Regions from separate parts of the Homo sapiens genome. Here region 2 is linked to region 1. Evidence: fine-mapped expression QTL. A gene starts in region 1. The other region holds a variant in brackets. All regions are shown on one strand. Distances are from middle to middle.

Evidence for each region.
Region 2: its variant is fine-mapped to the expression of ASB11 in skeletal muscle (GTEx, PIP above 0.99). The same link has a PIP of 0.9 or more in atrial appendage.

What each region holds. Positions count from the first base shown.
Region 1 is chrX:15,309,553-15,320,337 of GRCh38, reverse strand. It overlaps ASB11 (ankyrin repeat and SOCS box containing 11), which reads left to right and starts at 4,698. Exons shown (of 7, transcript NM_080873.3): 1 at 4,698-4,913. The coding sequence starts at 4,733. It overlaps PIGA (phosphatidylinositol glycan anchor biosynthesis class A), which reads left to right. Exons shown (of 6, transcript NM_002641.4): 6 at 1-882.
Region 2 is chrX:15,279,828-15,290,396 of GRCh38, reverse strand. ASB11 (ankyrin repeat and SOCS box containing 11) reads left to right here. Exons shown (of 7, transcript NM_080873.3): 5 at 759-893; 6 at 2,325-2,516; 7 at 6,768-8,700. The coding sequence ends at 6,892. Among named protein-coding and RNA genes, the nearest start is that of ASB9, 15 kb to the right of the region's middle. The variant C/G (reference allele first, on the strand shown) is at 6,895.

The DNA.
Region 1 (10,785 bases):
CAAATTATCCACATGGTGTGTATTATGAATTCTTTGAACTCTTAAGGTTTTTGTGAGAAAAGGACTGTGAATTCAAAACAATAAGGCACTTGTGGGTGCACTACATAGATTCTGACAGTGTTGTGATTCTGTATAGGATTTTTAAAAATGACAACATTCACAAAATTTATTACTTTTTAAAAAATAACATGCCTATTAACTGGTTGCACTGATATAAAAGAAATATATTTGTGTTTTGTTTGTACTAAAATGCAAAAGCAAGAGTGCAATTTTTAAAATCTAGAAGTTAGGGGTTTTGTTGGAGAAAAATGGACTGATCTTTAAACTATTCAGTCTTACTGGGATTTTTATGCATAGAAACTCACATATAAACATGAAATAAACAGTGCCAGTATTCATAGGAAAGTGAGAAACTGTAATATTTGGCCATTATTCTATTCAACAGGTTTTAGAGGCATGCCACCATTTTTTCCTTATATTTTTGCTTAATTTTTTTAAATTGTCATTTAATTCTTAAACTGTCATTTATTTGAGATGGAAATAAGATCTAAAGTTAGTTGCCTTTGCCTGTAAAACATGTGATTTGCAAATTATTATTTTTCTTTTTTTTAACAAATGGAAGTAAATTTGTTTCACGTAAATCTTAATTTTCAACCTTTCTGGATACCTTAATTGTAACTGTCAGTTTGCACTGGTCGGTATATGGAAACACATTGCTCTACCCTGCTACTTAGTTGATTTTAAAGTGAATTTACAGTGATGAGAAATTTGTGAAAAATATATTGTATTTCTTTTGATGTTTCAAAAGGTTGCCTATGAAAAACTGATTTGTTAAAACATGCTACATGTCCAAAAATAAAGACCAGAATGACATTTTGATAATTTTCTGAGTTTGTCTTATTTTATGAACAGACTATTATTTACTAGTGGAACAGGCTATCCCTGCCCCCGACACATTCTTTTTCAGTGCAATTTGGATGTGTTGCTTGGTCTATTAGTAAAACAAGAAATACCCTTTGGGCGATGAATTACTCTGTCATTTTTTGTTTCTAGAATATCTTCTCTCTCTCACTCATGGAATAGCGAGTTCAATTGTGCCTTTGTTTCCTTACCCAAATAAGCCCTTGTTTTTCATTGCCCTAGCATTATCACGTGAGACAAGGAAAATATCTACAAACTATACTGTGTATGTGAGCTACATAATTATGCTTTCTACTTTGCCCAACACAAATTTGTAAACTTTCTTAAAACATTATGAGACTTGTGATTTTCTTTCTTTCTTTCTTTCTTTTTTTTTTAGCTCATCAGCTATTAGGGTATTTTCATTTATTTATTTATATATTTTTGAGACGGAGTTTCGCTCTTGTTGCCCAGGCTGGAGTGCAGTGGCACGATCTTGGCTCACTGCAACCTCCGCCTCCCGGGTTCAAATGATTCTCCCGCCTCAACCTCCTGAGTAGCTGGGATTACGGGCGCCCACCACCACACTGGCTAACTTTAGTATTTTTTAGTAGAGATGGGGTTTCACCATTTTGGCCGGGCTGATCTCGAACTCCTGATCTCATGATCTGCTGTTAGTGTATTTTATGTGTGGCCCAAGACAAATCTTCCAGCGTGGCCCAGGGAAGCCAAAAGATTGGACATCCCTGATTTAGTTTCTCCCACTCCTTTTGTGGGAAGCAGTGGAAAGCAGTCACCTATGTTTATGTTTTGATTTATCTTATGCCAAAACTTATTTTTGGCAAAGTCAGGGTAGTATAGGTCTGTGTTTACTTTTGTGAAGTAATTTTAAAGCCTCTTTATCCATCTCTGCATTCCCAAATGGATGTGGCTAGATGTTGAATTGTATCATCCTGTGGCTGGATTTTTTAATATAAAATTATGAAAAAGTTCTATGTAGAATTTGATTTGTAGCCTTTAGTACTTGGGGGAACTGATTTTTATCCTTTATCATTTCTATTTGGGTATGGCTCAGTGGTTCTCAACTAGGGCTTGGGGGGACAGTTTTGTTTCCCAGGGGACATCTGGCAATGTCTGGTTGTTACTACTAGGTGGGGTGGGGCATTGGCATCAAGTGAGTAGAGGTCAGGGTTGCTGCTAAGCATTCCGCGATGCTCTGGGCCATCCCCCACAACACATGTATCTGTCCCAAAATGTCAATAGTGCTGAGGCTGAGAAACCTTGGTGCTGTTGATGATTTCATCTGTGAAAGATAGCATGAATCAACTGTCCTTATGTATCAGTAGCCTTTTATGCCCATCACAAATGTAATGTTCAAATATAGTAAAGATGGTCTTGCCGGGCATGGTGGCTCACGCCTGTAATCCCAGCACTTTGGGAGGCCGAGGTGGGCGGATCACGAGGTCAGGATATCGAGACCATCCCGGCTAACACGGTGAAACCCCGTGTCTACTAAAAATACAAAAAATTAGCTGGGCGTGGTGGCGAGCACCTGTAGTCCCAGCTACTTGGGAGGCTGAGGCAGGAGAATGGCGTGAACCCGGGAGGCGGAGCTTGCAGTGAGCCGAGATTGCGCCACTGCACTCCAGCCTAGGAGTCAGAGTGAGACTCCGTCTCAAAAAAAAAAAAAAAAAAAAAAGATGGCCTCTCAGAAATAGTATAGACACCCATTTGAACCTTAATAAAGTTGAGCTTTTCATGGCCAACTTTTTTGGCGTGTAAAACATAGGACAGCCATGTTTTAAATGAAAAGACCAAAACAAGATTGAATAATGTTATAGAACAATGTACATCACTGGTCTGACATGACTAAATGATTGCCTACTTAGAGTATAATTGAAGAAAGATAAATGAAAAGGACTAAAAGAGTTGTATTCATGTATTTTCATACACTGGCATTCTACCAGGTAATATAAGCTCAGTAAAGTAAATCTTATGTTAATGTCTGTTCCTTGAGAGTTAAGACGACTCAAGGTCTTTATAGTGCTCTGATACACTGAAATCGATGAGCTGTATGTTGTGACTCAAGATTGTATTCTTACATGTCAGCTTTTTAATGTAGTGAAACAGTTCTTAACCAGGCAGTCATTCTAATTTGCCTGCATGCTAGGAGAAATTCCCATATTTTTGCATAAATCATTTGTTAAGATTTATTAGGCCACTTGTATAACTATATTTTGGCTTGTCTTTTCAATTGATTTTTAAAATTTACAAAATCGAACATAGCCAAGAATGAAGGCAGAGACCTAGAGTGATGAGGAAAACTAAAAATAAACCCATTTCACTTGTGTTGGCCAGCTGATAAGAGAAAATTGCCCAACTAGAGAAGGTTGATTCATGAAATATTTGGGTACTTCATCCAGAACCTAGGGCATCTCTTTTGTCCATTTCACTATGACTCTTCCATGATCAAGGATAGCCCACATTTTTCAGAAATGGGCACCACCTTTACCAATGCTTGAAATGCAAGTGAATGATCAGGAGGGAACCTTGCCATGGGACCTTGTCCCAGATGGAACTACCATGGCGAGTAGTCTGATGCTTCTAGTGTGACACTTACTTGGAGAGGCATCCAAGATAGGCCTTTTATTAAATACAGGCTTGGCCGGGTGCAGTGGCTCACACCTGTAATCCTAGCACTTTGGGAGGCCAAAGTGGGTGGATCACCTGAGGTCAGGGGTTCGAGACCAGCCTGGCCAACATGGCGAAACCTCGTCTCTACTAAAAATACGAAAATTATCCAGGCGTGGTGACGCATGCCTGTAATCCCAGCTTCTTGGGAGGCTGAGGCAGGAGAATCGCTTGAACCCAGGAGGCAGAGGTTGCAGTGAGCCGCGATCGCACCATTGCACTCCAGCCTGGGCAACAGAGTAAGACTCCATCTTAAAACTAAATACATACATACGTGCATACATGCATACATACATACATACAGCTTTAGGGTAAATTGTCTTTTTTTTTTTTTTTTTTGAGACAGAATCTTGCTCTTGTCACCCAGGCTGGAGTGCAGTGGCGCGATCTCGGCTCACTGCAACCTCCGCCTCCCAGGTTCAAGCAATTCTCCTGCCTCAGCCTCCTGAGTAGCTGGGATTACAGGCACCTGCCACCACGCCCAGCTAATTTTTGTACTTTTAGTAGAGACGGGGGTTTCGCCATGTTGGCCAGGCTGGTCGCAAACTCCTGACCTCAGGTGATCCGCCTGCTTCAGCCTCCCAAAGTGCTGGGATTACAGGAGTCAACCACCGCGCCCGGCCAGGTAAATGGTCTTTTTTAACTGGTCATATTTTAGATTTGGATTTAATCCTCTATAAACTTCAGAATTAAGAGAAAATGAAATGCTCCAGGGAGTAGTATTTCCCACTTAGAACATACAGCATATTTGCACTTCTTTTGTATGTCAAATAACTTGCTTTGTTTCTGTGGAAGCCAAGAAGTTTCTATCTTTCCAACCCTGCTTTCTAACATAAAATAGGAAAAATAGGGGTTTAGGAATATAAAATGTTTGGATATGAATCTTATCTGTTAGATAGTACTGAGTTATGTAGTTCTAGAACTATTGGATGTTTCTGGTTAGAAGGAAGTTTCTTTAGTTTATTTAACACTGCTGTGGAGTCAGCACATGCAGTCGCCAAATCAGTTAGATTAGAACCTACAGAGATCTCGGTAACAGGAGCACTGAGTGCTAGAAGGTTTAAAATAGATGTCATATGATACCAATTATAACTCAGTGAAATTTTACAGTCCTAGGACCCTATACAGAGCATAAGCCAAAATGGAAGATGGTCCTGTTTTCTATGGCTTTAAAAACATTTTTATTACAATGTTTGCTACGTTTTTTTTCTTTAAGCTTTTAATTAAAGTTTTTTTGGCTCTCCTAACCCATTTCTATATCGTCAAAGGAAATAGAAAAGAAGCGGCTAGGATAGCAGAAGAGATCTATGGTGGAATTTCAGGTAAAAGTACATGAATTTGTTCCTAATATTTAAAGAAAATCCCTCCTAGATAATTCATATGACTAGTATTTCTGGAAGGCAGATTATATTTATACTTTGATTTTAAGTGGGTAGTTTGAAAAATTGTCACTTAAAGTAGCAAATGCTGTTGGCTGCATCAATTTGTGGAGGATTTTCAGCTTTATTTTTTGCAAGTTCGTAGATCTTGTAGCAGTTGTTATTTAAGAAGTAAATAGGTAGTGGCTTACTAAGAGTATTTTGAGAAACTTCATTTCTACTAGCCAAAGTAATTACTTGTATATAATTATTTTCTTTAATATTTTAAAGCAAACTTTAACAATGAAGGGCATTCTAACCAGACTAAATTCTCTCAGGAAATAGAATGACTAATAAATTATAATTAAAGCAGCAAACGTGGCAAGCTATGTGTATTTTTTTTGCTGTCATTTGCAACTGGAATTGATTAACCACTTGTCACTGTCAGGAAAAGCTCTTCACTAAACCCATTTTATATGGTAGCATGCAAAGCACTCCAAACAAAGTTTATTCTAACATGAAATGCCAAGATTTGGGCAAAACATTTTAAATTCTCATGCTTTGTAGAGAATAGTGTCCATTTCTTTCAAGAAATGATTTACTTTAATTGTGGTGAGATGCTACAAAAGTAAATGAGTCAGATATCCCTGTCACTCCTGGGATTGTCACTTAATAGAGGAGTATTTATTCATAAACAGAGTTCAGAATTTCCCCGTGTATTTTTAGTGTTTGCAGGGGTTCCAGGATTACATCATTCTTTATCTAGTATCCATTTCAATTTGCATCCAGGATTCTCTTTCAAAATAGTCTTATGTGATTCCAATACACTAGACAACTCAGAAGACACTAGACAACAGCAGTCTTATCTAAAGAAATAAGACCTCCAAGGACGAAGCATCAGAATGCTTCAATTAACTGGGGAAAATGAGAAGAATTGTGAAGTTTCAGAACGTATCAGAAGGTCCGGACCATGGAAAGAGATTTCTTTTGGGGATTATATTTGTCACACATTTCAGGGAGGTATGTTACTTTGACTAGTTACAAAAAAAAAAAAAAAAAGTAATGCTTCTGATAAGTTTCAAGTTAAGCATGATCTGAAAAGTTATCTTCTAATTTAATTTGTCAATTTGGGCAAGGGCTTTCTAAAATTTTCAATAATAGTTTTGGTGTTCTCATAGATAAATCATTCTTCTGGTCTAAATTAGATGAAGTCCAACAAAGTCAATATTGGCAAGAACATGTTACAAATGTTTTCTCCTGTTGCACCTGCGCATTATTTCTGTCTTTGTGGTCTTTAATTAAGTGCACTCTTTTTTTTTTTTTTTTTTTTTGAGATGGAGTCTCGCTCTGTAGCCTAGGCTGGAGTGCAGTGGCACCATCTCGGCTCACTGCAACCTCCGCCTCCCAGGTCCCGGTTGAAGCAATTCTCCTGTCTTAGCCTCCTGAGTAGCTGGGATTACAGGCACACGCCACCATGCCCAGCTAATTTTTTTGTATTTTTAGTAGAGACAGGGTTTCACCATGTTGGCCAGGCTGGTCTTGAACTCCTGACCTCATGATCCGCCCGCCTCGGCCTCGCAAAGTGCTGGGATTACAGGCGTGAGCCACCGCGCCCGGCCTCAAGTGCACTCTTAAAAAAGGTATAAAACCTCCTTATAGTCAAAACCCATGTAAGCATGGTTTGAATTTAATCTGGAGCTGGAATACAAATCTCTTAAATACAGTTCGTTCATTCTGTAGTGCAAATATCTTTACTTGTTCAATCTCTTAAAATAGGTTAATTTGCAAGTAGCATAGTATTCTAAGGTCAAAAACATTTTTCAATTATTGTTAAAGAGGCAGGGAATGGTGCATGTTAATTTCCCAGTTTTATTTCTTTCATATATATATGTATATGTGTGTGTGTGTGTGTATACATATACACGAATCCCCCCACCCCCAAATTTACCAAGATTTGGTAAATAAGACTTTCTGTTTTTTTGTTTGTTTTGAGATGGATTCTTGCTCTGTCACCCAGGCTGGAGTTCAGTGGCACGATCTTAGCTCAGTGCAACCTCCTCCTCTGGGGTTCAAGCAATTCTCGTGCCTCAGCCTCCTGAGTAGCTGGGATTATAGGCGCACGCCACCACGCCCGGCTAATTTTTGTATTTTTAGTAGAGATGGGGTTTCGCTATGTTGGCCAGGCTGGTCTCGAACTCCTGACCTCAAGTGATCTGCCCACCTTGGCCTCCCAAAGTGCTGGGATTATAGGTGTGAGCACCTGTGCCTGGCCGCTAAATAAGTCTTTCTATAAGAATGTAGGCAGTAACATGCCTGGACCAGTATTTTTCACATGGTTCTGTGTTTTTCTTTTGATACCACTGTTAACAGTCAGATACTATATTATTACAAATCTTCCCCCGCCCCACAAAATACTTAAAAAATAACAACTCTTTATTCAAAACCCAGTCCTTTAAATATTAATGCAACTAGGCCAATACACCTAAACAATAAATCCTCCTCAACCCCTCAGTCTCTCTAATTCCTAAATTATCCCATAACAATATATTTAGGTGTATTAAAAATCAAGAACAAAATTTTGTGGAAGTGTTAAACTCAAACCAGAAATCAAACTCAAACCAGAAATCACCTTTGCTTTTGGTCACTTTTGCACTGGTCAGACAAATGTTTGTTGGGAAAATATATGACATTTAATCAGTAAATTAGCTAATTGACTTACAAAAGTCCCAGCCCAAGGTTAAGTTTCTTGAGTCTGCTAGCATATGCTATTCCTGTAAACTATTGTCAGCAATGTCAAAAGCAAGGAAGGGCAGGAAAAACCTAGCCAGCACACAGGTTAGACTTTTGTAGGTCCAGAGCACTCTTTTTTTTTTTTTTTTTTGGAAGCTGCATTTAACACCACATGCCTCATTAAATATCATTCTTTGTGCTGTAAAACCTTTTGGAAAGTTGTTTTTTTTTTTTTTTTTTTGTGCAGTGGGCGGGTGGGGGTGGATTTCATAGTCTGGAATACATTATTTTATATGTCTTTGTGGCTTAAACTATTACATTTGCTGATCACTCATCATAGTTGAATTAAGCCATGGTTGACTGTTATTAGTTTTGGTTTTTAAGCTTCTTTGTTTATTTTGTCTATTATATGTATATTTTTTTTTCTTTTTTAAAGTTTAATACATTGTCCTTGGCCTTTGGTGTTATGCCTAGAGCACCAGATGGATCACTGGATCCCACCTTCAGTCCATAGATATTTCTGCAGGCACTTTCTCAGGAGAGATGTATTGTATGATTTTTCAAGCTTTGCTAATTTGTATTAAGCTATGTTTAGTACTGTGACTTGGTCATCAAGAAAGAAAATATAGTGTAGATACAGATTGATCATCTGTTATTCATAACCCTTCAGCCAGCCATGTTTCAGAATTCAATAGCTTTTGAATGTTAGAAAGATCATACAATGTGCATACTGTCTATTGCACAGCACTTCTGGTGGGGCCTGGAGCTGCCTCCCACAGTCAAACATTTTGATCTTTCTATAGTGAACATATAGGTATTCACACTAGATGGAAATATAAAACAAATAATAAATTGCTTAACCTAAGTCCTGGCCATGCTTTGCTGCTAAACAAGTTTGCATCAAATTTGGGGTAAAGCTTGGTTTTCAGAATTGGAGGAACTTTACAAGTGCAGATAAGACGTTGTAGAACTGTAGTGCCCTCTTTCAAAAAAAAAAAGGGCTATTTTAAGCTGTGTCTAAAAGATCAGTCCTATTCTAAGTTTTATGCTTAAAATCACTTGTTGATGGACTGACCATGATTTGACAGCTATGCCTCTGCCTAACTCAGCATTCTGAATCCTTTTTCCTGTCTTTTCCATTCCAATAGGATCGCCTTAGTTTCATTCTTGCCCAAACCTCGACCTAGCCTTCTGCTCTTATTTAGTTTTGCTGGTTGTCTCCACAAACATTGGCCTAACCATCCTCTAAGTTGCATATCAGGTGCCTGCTGGCTTTTCCTAGGTTGGGACAACCAGTCCTTGGCAGAGGCTCTACCTTCCACCAGTCTCCTTTAGCTCAGCTCTCCCGCCCTTAAGAGTTCAAAGGAGCCTTCTTTCTAATACACTGCAACATAGTTAATTGTGTCTAACACAGCTCACTGTGTCTCATCTCCTCTCTAGGACTGGACATTCTGGAGAATATTTATTTTAACTCAGTTTTATTACAATATTTTAGATATCTCAGGAAATACATTCTATTTTCCCAGTTACCTTTGTTTCACATAAAATACCATTAATTCTGCTAGGCTCTTGCCTGTATTTTGGTTCAAAATTAAAATTCCTTATGAATTTTCTTTTCCTTAATAAATGCTACAGAAGATTTGTTTCATATGATTTTATTTTTTATTTTTTGAGTTGGAGTTTCGCTCTTATTGCCCAAGCTGGAGTGCAGTGATGTGATCTCGGCTCACTGCAACCTCTGCCTCCTGGGTTCAAGTGATTCTCCTGCCTCAGCCTGCTGAGTAGCTGGGAGTACAGGCGCCCGCCACCACACTGGCTAATTTTTGTATTTTTAGTAGAGACAGGGTTTCACCATGTTGGCCAGGCTGGTCTCGAACTCCTGACCTTAGGTTATCCACCTGCCTTGGCCTCCCAAAGTGCTGGGATTACAGGCATAAGCCACCGCGCCCGGCTGTTGGGTCATCTTTTTAAATAAAAAAACAGTAATCTGAAATACTTGTTGAAATTAGAGTAAAAATTACAAAAACAGTTTAATCGTTTTTTATCTCAAATGGTTGGAACTTAGACAGCTGTACTCCATCTGAACCAATGTTATTGAAATATATACGGTTTTAGAAGTTGTTGTGAAGTTGTCATTCAAACAGTCTGAGATACAAATCACATTCTGAGAAAAATTCAAAGGGGGAAATGAAAAAGCACTTGAACATTTTCCGTACACCTCATCAGGAATAAGCAAACATATTTGTAGAGTAAACTATCTTCATAATGTGTTTGCAGCCCTGTGACACGGGCGATCTGCCAAAAAACTAAAAATAGATTGCCTTAGAAGAGAATGATTGAGTCCTACTTAAGCATTCATTTATTTGGAGAGCTCAGTTGCATACTTCCTGAAGGGAATGGAAAAACTCCCAAGCTGCCAAGTAACTTTTATCCTCAATTTCTCACAATTAGCTCCAGTTTGCAAAATGAGAATGGTAAGAGTGAGAGACTCTGTTGGGAACAAGGATAGAAAAGCAGGAGACCCCACTGTGGCAGTTTCTGGAAAAGGGTTCTGTGTGAAAACCCTTGAAGGTCCTTTGAAGCAAGTTCTGGGAAATGATGGAACTAGAAAGGCTACTTTCTTGAGAGTTACTTCGTTTCCAGTTGGGAAACAAAAAGGACTTCTACTTTTTTTTTTTTTTTTTTTTTTTTGAGACGGAGTCTTGCTCTGTCGCCCAGGCTGGAGTGCAGTGGCGCGATCTCGGCTCACTGCGAGCTCCGTCTCTCGGGTTCACACCATTCTCCTGCCTCAGCCTCCCAGGTAGCTGGGACTACAGGCGCCCGCCACCACGCCTGGCTAATTTTTTTGTACATTTAGTAGAGATGGGGTTTCACCATGTTAGCCAGGATGGTCTCGATCTCCTGACCTCGTGATCCACCCGCCTCAGTCTCCCAAAGTGCTGGGATTACAGGCGTGAGCCACTGCACCCAGCCCTGGATCTCTACTTTTAGGGTGGTACAATTGGTTTATTTCACACCATTTATAGCAGTGGTCCCCAACCTTCTTGGCACCAGGGACTGGTTTCATGGAAGACAATTTCTCCATGGACCAGGGTGTGGGGGGATG
Region 2 (10,569 bases), 30 kb after region 1:
TGCATGGATAAAGAAGAGAATGAGAGATTTGTAATGGAGAGGCGACAGGGTTCTCTTGGGTTTGAGCACTAGCTTTTCAGAGTAATAATAGGCCTAGTCGTTTGTCCCTCTGGGTCTTGTCACTTCCATTTGTAAAATGGTGGCATCATTCTGGAGAGTGATTTCAACTGTGCTACTTGGAGCCCTTAGTTCAGTTAAAGTTAACTTGGGCTGTAAAGAGGAGCTGGAGTGGGGAAGCATGGGCATGCTCCTCTTTTTATTGGTATTATTTTGGTGGTTTCTACCTAAGATTTCCAAAAACAAACACAAAAATGTTTTTATGCTACAAAAAGAGATCTAGGTTATTTAATTAATTTATTTATTTATTTATTTTGAGACAGAGTCTCGCTTTGTCGGCCAGGCTGGAGTGCAGTGGCGCTATCTCGGCTCACTGTAACCTCCTCCTCCCCGGTTCAAGTGATTCTCCTGCCTCAGCTTCCCGAGTAGCTGGGATTATGGGTGTGTGCCACCATGCCCAGCTAATTTTTGTATTTTTAGTAGAGATGGGGTTTCACCATGTTGGCCAGGCTGGTCTCGAACTCCTGACCTCAGGGAATCCGCCGGTCTCAGCCTCCCAAAAAGCTGAGATTACAGGCGTGAGCCACCACACCCGGCCAACCTAGGTTATTTCTAAAGCCCATTTCAGATAAGCAATCCTATAATTCTGTTAATATTTAATATGTCCCTTACTTGAGTGAGGGTATCTTGTGTTCCACCAGGTCACAGAGAGTGCATGGAGATCCTGCTGGCAAATAATGTTAACATTGACCATGAGGTGCCTCAGCTCGGAACTCCCCTATATGTGGCCTGCACCTACCAGAGGGTAGACTGTGTGAAGAAACTTCTAGAATTAGGTAATTTCCAAAATTATTTTCATGAAGAAACCTGTTAACTTTGTTGATTTTCTACAGCTTCAAAGATGAAGTTCTTGTCATGGTTGAAAAATATTCGGTTAGCATTTTATGTTTGAATGCTAAAAACAAAACTTCTCTAGAGAAATGAGTGTCTGTATTTCTCAGTCCTGCTTCCTTTGATGTTAACTCCATTTACCTGGTATTGTTCTCCCTGGTTGTCACAAGATAGCTGCCAGCAATACCTGGGCTTACAGCCCTCCTTATCCATACGCAGCAAGAAAGAGCATTGGCTCTTTTTAAGTCACATGCCCATCTTTGAACCCCTCATGGGGGCCAAGGGAATACAATATATTGATTAGTTTAGGCCTAGATTTCAGCCTACTCTGCATTTATTAGGCTTCACTGGAAACACGAGAACTGAAACTAACAAGAGGGTGGTTTACCTTTGGGAAATCTAGGTATGCTTGCCAGGAAGATGCTGGACGGTAAAAACAGACATTTGCTACAGGCTAGTTTATATCTATCCTGCTACAGTATCTAGTCATTTTAAAAGCAATTCTAAAAGGCATATACAGAAACCAAGAGTCCGTGGAAAAATGAAATATCTTTTTTTTTTTTGAGATGAAGTTTCGCTCTTATTGCCCAGGTTGGAGTGCAATGGCGTGACCTCAGCTCACTGCAACCTCCACCTCCAGGGTTTAAGCGATTCTCCTGCCCTAGCCGCCGGAGTAGCTGGGATTACAGACGCACACCACTACACCCGGCTAATTTATTGTATTTTTAGTAGAGACAGGATTTTACCATGTTGGCCAGGCTGGTCTCGAACTCCTGACCTCAGGTGATCCACCTTCCTCAGTCTCCCAAAGTGCTGGGATTACAGGTGTGAGCCACTGTGCCCGGCCGGAAAAATGAAATATCTTGAAACTATTCTTTGGTTAAAGATTCAACAAACTTAGCCCCTGACATAAAGGTGGAGATTTAGTAAAAACCTTTAGTTGTGAATTTTTATCTTGAGGAAGTTTTTGTCTTTTTTATTTCCCATCATTTACTATTCTCTATAGTAAGTTCAGAAATCATTTTTTGAGCCCCAAATAATATAAATACTAAATAAACTTAGCTTTATCTTTTGTCCCAAAACATAATAACTATGTAACAGGAGCCTCAAATACTTTATTTTGTATGCCACACAGTTTATACGGGAAAGCAAGTATTTAAAATGACTAAAACTATCTAAATTCACTTTTCTCACCAAAGAATTTCAAGTAGTCTTAGTAGGCATTGCTGAGGTTCTAGGCTTGAGTTGCATATTTTCAAACATTTGTCAAGTATGTCATGGTACTTAAAATGTCTTTATATGCAATGACTATATTTGAAGCTCATTGTGCTTTACATTACATTTAGTGTTGAATTGTGGCCATCTGTTTTGTTAAGGAGCCAGTGTCGACCATGGCCAGTGGCTGGACACCCCACTCCATGCTGCAGCGAGGCAGTCCAATGTGGAGGTCATCCACCTGCTAACCGACTATGGAGCTAACCTGAAGCGTAGAAATGCTCAGGGCAAAAGTGCGCTTGATCTGGCGGCTCCAAAAAGCAGCGTGGAGCAGGCACTCTTGCTCCGTGAAGGTAACCAAGGGCTGGGTATCCATTCCTCTTCCATAAGCACATTCTCTCCCCTTCCTGTCTCATCTGTAGCATTTTTTCCTTTTTCTTTTCTCTTTTTAATTGAAGGTGGCATTGTGGGAGGTGATAGGCCCTGCCGTCACTGACCTGTCTTCTGGGATTTTATATGCTGTGTATATTCACTAACAACCAAAGGGCATTTACCTATAACCAGAGTGTTGCTTTGTATTTTATATAACAAGAAAATAACCAGAAAACCGGCTGGGCGTGGTGGCTCACGCCTGTAATCCCAGCACTTTGGGAGGCTGAGGCGGGTGGATCACAAGGTCAGGAGTTTGAGACCAGCCTGGCCAGCATGGTGAAATCCTGTCTCTACTAAAAATACAGAAATTAGCCAGATGTGGTGGCTGGCGCCTGTAGTTCCAGCTACTTGGGAGGCTGAGGCAGGAGAATCGCTTGAACCTGGGAGGCGGAGGTTGCGATGAGCAGAGATCACACCACTGCATTCCAGCCTGGGTGACAGAGCGAGACTCCGTCTCAAAAAAAAGAAAACCAGAAAACCTTGTTTATACCCCGAAAATCTTGAATTTCCATTTCTGTCCTGGCATAAGCGTATGATTGAGCAAACCAAAACTCTGCTTTGTAATATTGGGAGACAATCTGATGGCAAATTCAAAAGACTTGAGTCAGAGTCTGTAGGGGAGGACACAGAGTATTTCAGAAATCCGACTAAATGGTGAGGTTGTTTGCCTGTTCTCCAGATCAGGGAGTAGGTGGGTCTGCATTCTTCATTGCTTCATTCCCGTTTCCACCATGAGCATTAAGAGCAACTACTGATGCCAGAAGAGGTAAGGCGAGCATCTGAAATTCAGAAGAGAACCAATTCAGAAGAGAACCTCTTATGTCTATACAGTAAGAAAATATTTTCGGAGCCTATATTGATTATTTGTGTGCCTGAAGAATATTAAAGATAATTATAATTATTCAGCTCTACGTATGCCAGGCACTGGGCTAAATTTGAAACATAGATCAAGCTCACTGAATTTTTAAAACTTTAGAGCAGTGGGAACTTTATATGGTAGTAGCTGGTTGCTATGCCAGGTACAAATGGGAAAAGAAAAGCATTGACAAGGTCACACAGCTAGCTACATAATAGAATTAGGTAGGATTCTGAGCCATCTGACCCCAGAGTGTGCACTTTTTTTTTTTTTTTTTTTTTTGAGATGGAGTCTCACTCTGTCTCCAGGCTGGAGTGCAGTGGTGCGATCTCGGCTCACTGCAACCTCTGCCTCCCGGGTTCAAGCGATTTTTCTGCCTCAGCCTCCTGAGTAGCTGGGACTACAGGCGTGCACCACCACACCCAGCTAATTTTTGTATTTTTAGTAGAGACGGGGTTTCACCATGTTAGCCAGGATGGTCTCGATCTCTTGACATTGTGATCCGCCCGCCTCAGCCTTCCAAAGTGCTGGGATTACAGGTGTGAGCCACTGCACCTGGCCATCAGAATGTGCACTCTTAATGTCATAAGGCCCCAACCCTGAATCTTTTGAAACATTCAGTGAGGAGGGTCTTATTTCACTCACCAGTTCCATTTTGTGAAACCACTACATCATATATACCTTCCAAGTAGAATGCTTGGTTTTAACCATTTTATGAATAGTCTTTCTAAATCAGTGCTTCTTAAGATTTAACATGCATATCAGTTCACTTGAGGATTTCCTTAAAATACAGATTCTCATTCAGGAGGTCTAGGATGGGACCTGTGACTCTGCATGTCTAGCAGGCTCCCACGTGATGTTGATGGTGCTGGTCTGAGGACCACACTTTGCGTACCACTGGTCTAGATTATTATTATTGTTATTATTATTATTATTATTTTAGACGGAGTTTTGCTCTTGTTGCCCAGGCTGGAGTGCAGTGGCGTGATCTCGGCTCACTGCAACCTCCGCCTCCCGGGTTCAAGCAATTCTCCTGCTTCAGCCTCCTGAGTAGCTGCGATTACAGGCGCGTGCCACCACGCCCAGCTAATTTTTTGTATTTTTAGTAGAGATGGGGTTTCATCATGTTGGCTAGGCTGGTCTCGAACTCCTGACCTCAGGTGATCCACCCGCCTCAGCCTCCCAAAGTGCAGGGATTTCAGGCGTGAGCCACCGCGCCTGGCCAGGATTATTTTCAATAGTCTAGATCATTAATCATTGTTCTTTTATTTGAATCTTCACCAGAAGAATTATGATCTTCCTCAGCAGATCCGAGCTTGGAAATACCAGCTACTTTCCAACTGTTAGCAGAGACTATAGTTTATAGAAGTTTTCACATTTCCTATTTTCTTCCATCAAAAATGTTTCTAGGACTAGGATTTGTAGACCTGGATATCCTGGACAGGGCCTAGCTCCTCTGTCCTTTGTCTTCATAAATATAGCCACTTGCTCTAGAAAGATTAATACTGGCTGGGCGCGGTGGCTCACACCTGTAATCCCAGCACTTTGGGAGGCCCAGGCGGGTAGACCATGAGGTCAGGAGTTCAAGACCAGCCTGGCTAAGATGGTGAAACCCCGTCTCTACTAAAAATACAAAAATTAGCTGGGTTTGGTGGCACCCGCCTGTAATCCCACCTACCCGGGAGGCTGAGGCAGAGAACTGCCTAAACCCGGGAGGCAGAGGTTGGAGTGAGCTGAGATTGAACCACTGCATTTCAGCCTGGGCGACCGAGTGAGATTCTGTCAAAAAAAAAAAAAAAAAAAAAGAAAGATTAAATACCAACTACATCAGAGTTCACTCTCCTGTCAGTGTCTCTGGGCACTGGACAATTTGTCTACATTACCATTTTGCAGAGGAGGTTAAGTAGGACAACAGGTAAAGAAGTTTTCTATTCTTGCTTCCCAAGATTTTAACTAAGATCGATTGTTTGGTCCTCCAGGTAGCTTTCTATCTCATGGATGCTCCTTGGCAATGTGAAGCCAAATGTTAACCTGGCTATTCGCATATGCAGTCCATCATTTTTCATGGGGTGTGAGATGCTGTTACAGTGGATTTTTTTGAAAAGGAAAACTTTGTGTAGACCAGTAATTAGGTTTTCTTGAAGAGATCTTTACTGATAACAGTCAGGTTAGGAAATAATGACTGTGCAACTAGTATTGCAGCCAAAAGCTCATTCATCCTATTCAACCATATTCTGGACTCTCATCAGCTGATTTTCCTTAAGGATTCAGAGCCATTCAAAGCCATGGGCATGATGATTCTGTGAGACTCCTTGAGAGTCCATGAGACTCAGTTTCAGGGAACAATAGGGTCTGACTTGAGTCCTTCTTGCAGATCTCTATTGAGCTGGAATCCTTGCAAGAATAAAGGGCCTCTTCAGATTTAAGTTGAGACCCAGCCAGCACCACCTCATGGGCAGCTAGAGCCGGTAGGTCCAGGAGTACTTTGAGGGCTGAATATCTGGCCCCTGGCACATCTCCTAACACTGCCTCTGTCACCACGCAGGTGGAACTTCCCGCTGACACCCTTTCCGTATTGTCCCTCTGTTCTGTGGCTGTGTCTTGGAGTCCTGCGTGTTCAGTCCTTCCATTTGCATTTTCTCCTTGGCCAGTGTATTACTTTCTTTCTTTCTTTCTTTTTTTTTTTTTTTTTTTGAGGCGGAGTCTCGCTCTGTCGCCCAGGCTGGAGTGCAGTGGCCCGATCTCGGCTCACTGCAAGCTCCGCCTCCCGGGTTCACGCCATTCTCCTGCCTCAGCCTCCCGAGTAGCTGGGACTATAGGCACCCGCCACCACACCCGGCTAATTTTTTGTATTTTTAGTGGACACGGGGTTTCACCGTGTTAGCCAGGATGGTCTCCATCTCCTGACCTCGTGATCCGCCCACCTTGGCCTCCCAAAGTGCTGGGATTACAGGCGTGAGCCACCGTGCCTGGCCCCGTGTATCACTTTCATTGGCACATTCAATACATGAATGAGATGCATTCCCTTTAGACCCCACACCTCATTCCTAACTTGCCTCTGGTTAGCTTCATTCTTCAACATTGGTAATCCAAGTACCATTGGAAGATTAACTTAAAGAAATGCATCCCTTCCAGAGGGGCAAATCAGGATCTGCTGTCTGTATTTAGTGTCCGCTACCTCATTCTATAGTTCCTATACAGATCCAGCTTCTCTTCTGCTTTTAGAAAATTTCCGCCTCTTCCAGTTCTCTGATTTCCCCCTTCCACCCCACCTCCCACCACTATGAAGTTAACACCATTTTTATTTCTCTCTCAGGCCCACCTGCTCTTTCCCAGCTCTGCCGCCTGTGTGTCCGGAAGTGTCTCGGTCGAGCATGTCATCAAGCCATCCACAAGCTACATCTGCCAGAGCCACTCGAACGATTCCTCCTATACCAATAGTC[C/G]TAAGTGTTCCTGGGAAGATACTTGGAATGACACAGATTGTTGTCTGCTGTACCTAGAGTACCTAATGTAGAAGCTCAACAGCTTAGACTCCTAGTATCTTTAAATGAGCTCAGTCGAAGTAAATCCCCCATGAGCTAGAACACTTGAGGAGTGGAAACTCCTGGTTAGTTTAATGTTCTCATTAACCAAGGGGCAAGTAGAAACCATTTAGCTTTTAGCTCTTGTTGTTAAGAAACTTAAAAGAACTGTGAAGTAGAGTGAAAACAATAGGCTGTTTTTTGATGATTCGGGATCTTCTTGTACCTAAAAGTCAACATTCTGAATATTGTATAGACACATATAAATTCAGGTGGATAAGATTATAACAAATGTTAGGTATTCCAAGATATGTTCTTGATTTAGTTCCTTCCTTCAGCCCTTCCCCACTTTTTTTCTTTCTTTCCTTGAATAAATCTGGTATAATTTTGATTTTTTGTATATATATACGTATATATATATACATACATATACGTATATATATATACGTATATATATACACACACACACATGCACTCATATATTTAATGTTTTCAAAGTCCTTAATATATATAGTTCATATATGTTTTCAAAGTCCTTAATATATGTATAAAGCTTATATATATATGTTTTCAAAGTTCTTTATATATAAAGTTATATATATTTATATAGACTTTATATATATATACATATATAAAGTTAAGGACTTCAGAAACATTGTAGTTAACTGAGGCTTCCAGTTACTGCGGTCCTGGTTGATAAGAGAGACTTTGGAAGAGATCAGTGCACCCAGAGGTTGGCATCTATTGCTTATTGCTTCTGATATTAAATGCTGTTATTTGAAGTAAGCAGTTCTAGGATTGAGAACACTGGGTGTCCCCAACAACCTGAACCCACAGGCATTGTCTGAGGCATGTTGCAACCCAAGCACTGGCTTATTTTCAAAGTCAAGATGCTCAGGGTTTTTGAAATAATTACATACTGATGCCAGCCACCAAAGTGGGCTCAATGCTGGGTCAATATTTTTTTCTGTGGATAGGGGCCCAAAATAAGCACAAAGGTATATAAAAAGAGGCTTCTCCTTTTCTGTCTTCTCCTTCTTCTCATTTCTCTCTCCTTCTGTCACCCCTCCTCTTCCTCTATTCTTTCTCTTTTTTGTGAATTTAGAACATGGGAACTGGATAGACTTTTAATTATTGTAAGTATTACTGTCATGGTTCAGTATTCAGTTCTAAAATGAAAATTCCCTCTCAGATCATCCTAAGACTCATTTCACACATGTTTTTTTTTCCCCCAATTTTTCTAGACCTTTGGCTCTCAACTGGAGACAATTTTGCCCCACTCCCACTGAGACATTTGTCAATGTCTGCAGACATGTTTAGTTGCAACAACTGGGGGAGAATTGCTACTATCATCTAGACGGTGGAGATCAGGGATGCAGCTAATCACCCTACAGTGCACAGGAGCCAGCAACAAAGAATTATCAGATCTGGCCGGGCATGGTGGCTCACGCCTGTAATCCCAGCATTTTGGGAGGCCGAGGCAGGCAGATCGCACTGTCAGGAGTTCGAGAACCGCCTGGCCACTATGGTGAAACCCTGTCTCTACTAAAAATACAAAAGTTAGCCAGGCGTGGTGGCAGGTGCCTATAGTCCCAGCTACTTGGGAGGCTGAGGCAGGAGAATCACTTGAACCCGGGAGGCGGAGATTGCAGTAAGCCAAGATCACGCCACTGCACTCCAGCCTGGGTGACAGAGCGAGACTCCGTCTCAAAACAAAAAAAAAAAAAAGAAAGAAAGAAAGAAAGAAAAACAAACAAAAAAAAGAATTATCAGGTACAAAATGTCAATAGTGCCAAGAGTGAGAAACCCTTCTCTAAGCCTGTGCTATTCAATACAGTAGCTGCTAGCTACATATGGCTAATGAGCACAGGAATTGTGGATAGGCTGAATTAAGATGTGTTGTAAGTGTAAAATACATATTACATTTTAGTGATTGAGTAAAAAAAGAATATGAAACATTATGAACTTTGTTTTGTTTTCTTTTTTAGACGGAGTTTCACTTTTGTCATCCAGGCTCGAGTGCAATGGTATGACCTTGGCTCATTGCAACCTCTAAGCCTGTGCTATTCAATACGGTAGCTACTAGCCACATATGGCTAATGAGCACAGGAATTGTGGCTAGGCTGAATTAAGATGTGTTGCACGTGTAAAATACATATTACATTTTAATGACTGAGTAAAAAAAAGAATATGAAATACATGAACTTTTTTCTTTTCTTTTCTTTTTTGAGACGAAGTTTTGCTTTTGTCACCCAGGCTTGAGTGCAATGGCACGATCTCGGCTCACTGCAACCTCTGCCTCCCAGGTTCAAGCGATTCTCCTGCCTCAGCCTCTGGAGTAGCTGGGATTGCAGGCATCTGCCACTATGCCCGGCTAATTTTCGGTATTTTTAGTAGAGATGGGGTTTTACCATGTTGGCCAGGCTGGTCTCAAACTCCTGACCTCAACTGGTCCACCTGCCTCTTCTTTTTTTGTTTTATTTTTTATTTTTTTGTTTTGAAATATTAATAGCTTTTGATGTTGTATTTTTAATTTTTTGAAAACTTCCATACTGTTTTCCATAGTGGTTGTGGTAATTTACATTCCCACCAATAGTGTATAAGAATTCCCTTTTCTCCACATCTGCACCAGCATTTGTTATTTTCTATTTTTTGGATAGCCATTCTAACTGGGGTAAGATGATACCTCATTGTGGTTTTGATTTGCATTTTCCTGATGATTAGTGATGTCGAGCATTCTTTCATATACCTGTTGGCCATTTGTATGTCTTTTTTTTGGAGAAATGTCTATTCAGATCCTTTGCCCATTTTAAAATCAGATTATTTGTTTTGTTGTTGTCAAGTATGATTCAGCAATCCCATTACTGGATATTTATCAGAAAGAAAGGAAATCAATGTATGGAAGAGGTAGTTGCACCTCCATGTTTATTGTAGCTCTATTCAGAAAAGCAAGATATGAAATCAACTTAAATGTCTGTCAACAGATCAATGGATAAAGAAAATGTGGTATATATACAAAATGAAATACTATTCAGCCTTAAAAAAGAAGGAAATTCTGTCATTTGCAGCAACATGGATGAGCCTAGAGGACATTATGTTAAGTAAGTCACGCACAGAAAGATAAACACCATATGTTCTTGCTTACATGTGGAAGCTAAAAAAATTGAGCTCACAGAAACAGAGAGTAGAATTATGCTTATTAGAGGCTGGGAAGGGTAGTGAGGAGGGGACAATAGGGCAATGTTGGTTAATGGATACAAAATTATAATTGGATAGAAGAAATAATTTCTAGTGTTTCATAGCACTGTAGGGTAAATGTGGTTAACAATAATTTATTATGTATTTTCGAAAACCTAGAAGAGAAGATTTTGAATGTTCATAGCAGAAATGATAAATGATTGAGGTGATGGATATGCTAATCACCCTGATTTGATTACTTCTAGGTATTAAAATATCACTCTGTACCCCATAAATATATACAGTTATTACATACCAAATAAAATTAAACGAAAAAACTTTTTTGCTGATCACACAATGAAATAATCTTTTCAATATATTAGGTTAAATAGAATATATTATTAAAATTAATTTCACTGG